Homo sapiens: one gene and its partner. The protein of the gene in region 2 interacts with the protein of the main gene of each other region in a biochemical or structural test. Each region holds a gene or a part of one and is shown on either strand. Other genes may lie near its edges.

Region 1 (4,180 bases), on a different chromosome or scaffold from region 2:
GTCGGTGGTGGCGCAGAGAAGCCAGACTTCTTCAAATACACCTTCTTTTCTAGATTTTAATTTGAGACTTTTAACTGTTTTATTACATAATTATAAAACAAAATTTAAGTGGCCGGGGGCGGTGGCTCACACCTGTAATCCCAGCACTTTGGGAAGCCGAGGTGGGCGGACGACTTGAGGTCAGCAGTTGGAGACCAGCCTGGCCAACATGGTGAAACCCTGTCTCTACTAAAAATAAAAAAAATTAGCTGGGCGTGGTGGCGGGCACCTGTAGTCCCAGCTCCTCGGGAGGCTGAGGCAGGAGAATCGCTCGAACCGAGGAGGCGGAAGTTGCAGTGAGCTGAGATCGCGCCACTGCACTCCAGCCTGGGCGACAGAGTAAGACTGTCTCGAAAAAATAAAATAAAGTAAAATAAAAGTTTAAATTTACAGAGCAATCTCTGAAAATCAGCAACAAAAGAAATGAAGCTAAATGCATATCCACTGAGTGGCATATCACTTAGAGAGGGACTATTCTAAGGGACTGGAAACACACCGGTTTACTACACAACCTAGTGGCATATACCCTCAGGGTAAGAAGACCTGTGAAGATGTTAAGGTTTTGGTCACCAATAGGTGAAGGCAGGGTAAGGTGTCCGAATGCCGTCATTTTCCATCCCCAGTGGTTTAATTGGTCTGGGCATTGAGTTTCAGTAGCTGCCAACACCCCAGAAAAGAGACACTCTCCTTGCCAAAACACACCAACAAATCCAACCTACCTCTGGCCAGATCCTCAGATCAACTACCAATTTACAGAAAAATCATAATGAACAACGTCAGAGGGGCCTGTTAGGCTACGTCATGAACGACTTGCTTGCTTCCACAAATAAATTGCAGGGAGATAGAAAGGGAACCTCTAGATTCAAAGGTAGTCAAAAGGCATATCAGTCAATCTGAATGTGTGGACCTTATTTGAGCCCTGATTCAAGCAGACTGAAAATACGTATGACATTTTTTGAACACTACTAGGATATTTGAAGCTATTCAGGAAATACTGTTACACTTGTCGGTGTGATGATGACTTGTGGTTATGTATTGAGAAGAGCCCTTTTCTCCTAGAGGAACATAGTAAAGATTTACAGAGGGAAGGGTGTGATGTCTTGGATTTGCTTCCAAGAATCAGGAAGAAAGGGTAGTGGAGGGGTCACAGATGAAATGAGATGAAACCGTGGAAGCTGAGTGATGGGTACCGGAGTTCATTACACTCCTCCCTCTACTTTAGTAGATGCTTGAAGTTTTGTGGAAAAAAAAAAAACCCACCCCGACATTTGAAAAGAGTGCACTGAAGCATCATGCATTGATGAAGTCTGGGGGCATCTAGGAAGAGACTGTTGACATTGCCACCAAGGAAATTCTGGGCACAGTCATGTTGAGGTCAACTGCAAGATCCTCATCCGGTTTGGTCTGGGCACTCTGTCACTAATTGGCACTCGGTCCTGGCCACCCCACAGCGGGATGTTTATTGGCAATCAAGGAGCTGGCGTGGCTTCTGGAAACCACAGCCTGCACGATGTTGTTGTTTTTTGTTTTGTTTTGTTTTGAGACAAGAGTCTCACTCTGTGGCCAGGCTGGAGCATAGTGGCGTGATCTCGGCTCACTGCAACCTCCACCTCCCGGGTTCAAGCGATTCTCCTGCCTCAGCCTCCTGAGTAGCTGGGACTACAGGCATGCGCCACCAAGCCCAGCTAATTTTTGCATTTTTAGTAGACATGAGGTTTCAGTATGTTGGCCAGGATGATCTCTATCTGTTGACCTCGTCATCTGCCCGCCTCTGCCTCCCAAAGTGCTGGGATTACAGGCGTGAGCCACTGTGCCCGGCCTGCACGATGTTCTTGAAGGCACCAAAGGAATTTGGTTTGGAGGAGGGACCTGGGGAGAGGGCCAGGAGTGGGGCGGTCACTGGTGTCCTCAGCTTCTTTGAGGGCCTGCGTGCAAAACTTTCGGATTGGGCAACTCCCAATGGCAGGACTCGGGCTGCCCTGATGAGAGCTTTCAGCTTTCTGTTGGGCCTGAGCCCTCTCTCCCAGGACGGCTCCGAATGGAAAGATGGCCCTGGGCGCCAATGCAGCCTCTTCCCCCAGAGGTGTGCAGCCAAAAGCCAAGTGGCCCCATCATGGAGTTTGACAAAATGACTGCTACAGGCTTTGCCGACCCTGAAGTTCTAGAAGTTTCTTGCCCTCTGCTGCTGTCTTCCCCACCCTCCCGCCTCCCTTGGGTGTGTCAGTATGTTGCCTCCTTTCGGCTTCAAATGTAAAGACAGACCCAGCTCTTCCCCAGGAAGCTGAGGGACTCCGTGGAATGAGAGGTCATTCGCTAGCAGTGAACACACTCATCTACGGGCCACAAAGAAAGAGCACATAAACTCTTCCCCGGCCTCGGATTCTCAAAGGGGCTGGGAAGCCTGTGTGGCTTGAGAATGCATATTCGATATTATGGTGTCCTTCTAGATTTGGAGAGGACCCCCCAATTCATGTCATCAGAAAAGCTATGGGAGAAAGCCTTCTCTGCTGGTGGGGACGTGCAGAAGAGAGATTCCCTTGGGCGGGGCAGGTGGGTGGCCGGTGGCCCCCAGTGCAGCCACCCAGCCTCCACGGGCCTGCTGGCTCACCTCTGGTGGAGTTGCTGTTGGTGTAGGTGAAGATGCTGGACTGGGTGCTGTCCTCATAGCTGTCCTGCGGATGGCGGCCTGCGAGCCTTTGGAGGCTCCACTGCTGGGCCATGGCTATGGAAAGCCCTGTCCCCGACGGCAGCCGGCCCTGGCGCATCACCTGAGGGTCACGGCGCTTTATACTGGCCTGTGGGATCAGCCCGGGCCTCTTCACCTTAAAAGCTCCCAAACCCTACACTACCTGATCTCTTAATTGGGCCTGGGACTTAGACCTCCTCCTCCCACCTCTTGCTCCCCTGCTCCTGAGGCGAGCCCGCAAGGGCGGCTCAGAGGGATTTGCTGGGAACCAAACTCAGACGCCCCACCCATCCCCGCCAGGAAGGTGGCGGTGACTGTGGGAGCCGCTGTGGCCCTCTCTGTGTTTATGTGTTCTCTGTTCCCTTCTACTGTCCTGCGTCCGCCTTTGGGGCAGGTGGACCCACGGGTCAGGATTTGCAGACTGGGGGGTGGGTGGTGAAACTGCTCAGAGCCCGAATCCTCCTTTCTCATGTGGTTCTCTTGAAAGCCCAGGGAGACTATTTAGGGCCGAGGCCTGGAACCGGATCCTCCTTGCGAGGCCAGCCATGTCCGTGGGCCCAAACGGGCGAGATTTGTGCCGGGGGGCTCCTCCTCCAGTGTAGGGGGGGCAGACTGACTGCGCACATCCTGCTGTTGGCTTCCCTCCTCCCCCTTGCCCCCCATGAGCTGTAGGTCCTTTGGCCGCCAGGGTGCACATGCAGTGCCCACATCAGCCCACGGCAGCGCCTGCTCACGTCTCCCTTGCCCTGAGTTCACAGCCTTGCCTTGGGCTTCACCAACCACAGGCCCCCCGTCGACAGAGTGTCCAGACAGGCCATCTCTGCTGTCCCTGTGTCCCCACGCTTCGCAGGGGCACGGATGACCTGTTAGTGCCCAACTCCGTAGCCTCGCCTCAGTTTCCAACCAACGGGCCCTGTCCCCTCCACGGCCCACCCGCCCCAGCGCCTCCCCAGGAGCACATCCCCTTTCACGGCTTCCATCAGCTCCCAGCTCCTCAGTCCCCAAATCCAGCTCCTTCCAGGTACCTCCTTTTGGGTTTATTCCTTAAGCTTAGGAAAGCCAAGGCGTGAGCTTGTGGCCTCTTGTCCCTGTTCTCAGAGCCACGATTCTCCAGCATTCCTGGCTCACACTTACACTCCTGGCAGCATGGCTTCTGCTGCAGGCACAAGGGGGCCCTGGCTGCCAAGCTGAAGGCCAGGGCTGCATGGAGCCCCAGCCTGGCTACCCATAGCAAGAATGGCTTTTAACATCTGTCGCTGCCTGCCACGTGCTAGGTGCCAAGCTAGGGGCCCCATGTGGAAGAGAAGACGAGTCCTGGCCACAGACTTGCCAGGGCCCATTCACAGCCTAGAAAGGTGAGCTTTTTCCCCAACTCTGGCACTTCTACACCTGTGTACCCAAGAGACTTGAAAATGTGTGTCCACACAAAAACCCGTACATGAATACAAACAGAGC
Region 2 (3,500 bases):
TAGGAATATATCTGATTTGGCTGAGGGAGTAAAGACCTGATTTATCATTAAACATTTTCTTTTATATAATATTCATTTTCCCTTTGGAAATTAAATGCTTTTCTTTATAGGACAGAGAGGTTTCAAAAGTGTTTGCTACTGAAGAGAAATATTAGCTACTGACTGAGGTTAAAAAATGACAAAGTAATTTTCCTAGAACAATGTTCTTGTCCAAAAAACATACAAGGTTAACATTTATTGAAAGGACTTTAGTGAGTATGAGGTTAATTTTTCCCCAGAATCATGTTATAAAAACAAACATGATATTCTAGAAACATAAGAAAAAATTATTTCTTACCAATAATTACATATAGAATTTACAAACCAATATTTATGTAAAAACTGTAAAAAGATAATTTATACTTAAAGGCTAGACATCTAATAAATAGAGCTTCCATTTCAAACAGTAAACATTCTTAAATGCAAACAATTATACCCTGACAGATCAAGCCAGGGTAAAACTTAAAAATGAAAAATAAGTTATTAGTAAAAGGTTAATTCCTTAACATTTACCTCTGGTAGTGACACTATTGGTTCAAAATGGATATCTTCATTATGAACTACTTCTTCATCACTACCATCTTCATCTTCACCAACTTTACCGGCTGACTGGGTTCCGACTGACTGTGTTCCAAACACAGCTGCTCCAGTATTTGCCCATTGGAAATTTTTATCTGATGAATAAATCAGGATATTTAAACACTAGTATCTATTTTTTACATTTTTCATCCCCCTCTTATTTTATCAATCCCTCTAATTCCTGATGATGTAATATGTACATCAATTTTAAATGTTTAAAATTATATTATTCTAGTAAATTCCTCACGCCTGTAATCCCAGCACTTTGGGAGGCCGAGGTCACCTGAGGTCAGGGGTTCGAGACCAGCCTGGCCAACATGGTGAAACCCCATCTCTACTAATAATACAAAAATTAGGCTGGGCGCAGTGGCTCACGCCTGTAATCCCAGCACTTTGTGAGGCCGAGGTGAGCGCATCTCCTGAGGTCAGGAGTTCAAGACCAGCCTGACCAACATGGAGAAACCCCGTCTCTACTAAAAATACAAAATTAACCAGGCATGGTGGCATATGCCTGTAATCCCAGCTACTCGGGAGGCTGGGGCAGGAGAATCGCTTGAACCCAGGAGGCGGAGGTTGCGGTGAGCCAAGATGGCACCATTGCACTCCAGCCTGGGCAACAAGAGTGAAACTCCGTCTCAAAAAAAAAAAGAAAGAAAGAAAGAAAAGAAAAGCCGGGAGTGGTGGTATGCGCCTGTGGTCCCAGCTACTTGAGAGGCTGAGGCAGAAGAATCGCTTCAACCTGGGGGGCAGAAGTTGCAGTGAGCTGAGATTGCCCCACTGCACTCCAGCCTGGGCAACAGAGCAAGATTCTGTCTTTAAAAAAAAAAAAAAAAGTTAGCAGTGTGTGGTCATGGGTGACTGATCCCAGCTACTCAGGAGGCTGGGGCAGGAGAATCACTTTAACTTGAGAGGCAGAGGTTGCAGTGATCAGATACCGCCCCACTGCACTCCAGCCTGGACGACAGAGCAAGACTCTGTCTTTAAAAAAAAAAAAAAAAAAAAAATTAGCCGGGCGTGGTGGCGGGTGCCTGTAATCCCAGCTACTCAGGAAGCTAAGGCAGGAGAATCGCTTGAACTTGGGAGGCGGAGGTTGCAATGAGCAGAGATCGTGCCATTGTACTCCAGCCTGGGTGACAGAGCAAGACTCTGTCACCAAAAAAAAAAAGGAAAAAAAGGAAAAAAAAAAAAGCTAGTAAATTCAACTCATACTGTTGAGTACAGAGTACATTTATTATTGTTATGCTTAGCGATACAAAGATAAGACTGTCACTGCCTTGGATAAACTTCCTAATACTAAACTACACAAGGACTTCCAAGTAAAGAAGTAGGTTCTTTTTACCTACTTCTAAAATTTCAAGTACCCACCTTGAAATTTTGTAAACTTAGCTCAGCAGGCCAAACCTGCTACTTCCAAATTAGCCACAATGGCCTAAACATGTTTATAATTTCTGCATCTCTACTTCTTCCTGAAGAAGCTAATGCTGGAATGTAGATTTCTTGGTTGGGCTGGTGGAAAGCAGCCTTGGGAGAATCTCACTGACTTCAACTGCCCAAAGGGTATTAGATTGTTAAGCATCCTACTTCTGTATGGGGGAACAATGATGGTCTCACTCTCGCATACCTGCAAGAAGGTGAAAACTAGAAACTTCTCCATCCCATACCTCAATTTAGATGACCAAGTCCCCACTATCTTAGAGGAAAGAAACACCTCTCAACTTTTTATCACTTGCTGAATCACTGTCTTAAAGAACCCTACACCTTCTGCTAAAAACTCTCATGAAAAAGAAAAAATGTCACAGGATACATAACTCAGTACCTTAAAGAACACAATAAAAAATCAACTCTCTTTCAGACAGATTTAATGGAGGGGAAAAAAAAATGTTTTTAAAGAGGAGAGAGGGCCGGGTGTGGTGGCTCATGCCTGTAATCCCAGCACTTTAGGAGGCCGAGGCGGGCTGGTCACTTGAGGTCAGGAGTTCGAGACAAGCCTGGCCAACATGGCGAAACCCCATCTCTACTAAAAATACTAAAAGAATTAGCGGGGTGTTGCAGTGCATGCCTGTAATCCCAGCTACTCAGGAGGCTGAGGCAGGAGATCACTTGAACCTAGCAAGCAGAGGTTGCAGTAAACTGAGATCTGCGCCACTGCACTCCAGCCTGGGCAACAGAATGATCGTCTCAAAAAAAAGAGACAGAAAGACAAAAATTCTTAAGGACATATTGCAAAGGAATGATCTGAGAACAAAAGCCACAGGTTGCATGGGAACTTCCTGAGAACAGTAACCACTGATCTGGATGAGATACCAACTTGGGGGCTCAAAAATAACTGTTCAGGGCCAGGTGCAGTGGCTCATGCCTACAATCCCAGCACTGTGCAAGGCCAAGGTGGCAGGACTGCTTGAGCCCAGGAGTTTGAGACCAGCCTGGGTAACATAGTGAGACCCCTGTCTCTACAAAAAATGTAAAAATTAGCTAGGCATGGTGGTACACACCTGTGGTCCCAGCTACTTGGGAAGCTGAGGTGGAAGGATTGCTTTAGAGCCCAGGAGGTCAAGGCAGCAGTGAGCTGTGTTCATGCCACTGCACTCCAGCCTGGGCAACAGAGTGACATCCTGTCTCAAAAACAAAAACAAAAACAAAATTGTTCAGCAACTTTTTTGCCAAAAGCAAAAATTTAAAAAATAACCCCAAGGGACATGTGGCAGAAGAATTCAAAATTATTTCAAAATAGTGGTTCTCTACCCTGGGAACACATTAGAATCACCCACTTGTAAAAGTATTTGTAATATATCAATATCTGGGTCTCACAGGTCATAACTGGGCCTACAGTAATGTTACTGTAAGTGAATAATTAATTTGGCAAGCTTTGAGACATTAGAGAA

Evidence for each region.
Region 1: the proteins of RANBP2 (region 2) and OPN1LW form a complex in vitro, tested with the Homo sapiens proteins (one study listed by BioGRID).

What each region holds. Positions count from the first base shown.
Region 1 is NC_000023.11:154,142,863-154,147,042, reverse strand, and holds the start of OPN1LW (long-wave-sensitive opsin 1), read right to left. Parts: upstream 2,801-4,180; 5' UTR 2,760-2,800; coding exon 2,648-2,759; intron 1-2,647. UniProt on the Homo sapiens protein: Visual pigments are the light-absorbing molecules that mediate vision. They consist of an apoprotein, opsin, covalently linked to cis-retinal.
Region 2 is NC_000002.12:108,778,482-108,781,981, reverse strand, and holds part of RANBP2 (E3 SUMO-protein ligase RanBP2), read right to left. Parts: intron 714-3,500; coding exon 553-713; intron 1-552. UniProt on the Homo sapiens protein: E3 SUMO-protein ligase which facilitates SUMO1 and SUMO2 conjugation by UBE2I. Involved in transport factor (Ran-GTP, karyopherin)-mediated protein import via the F-G repeat-containing domain which acts as a docking site for substrates.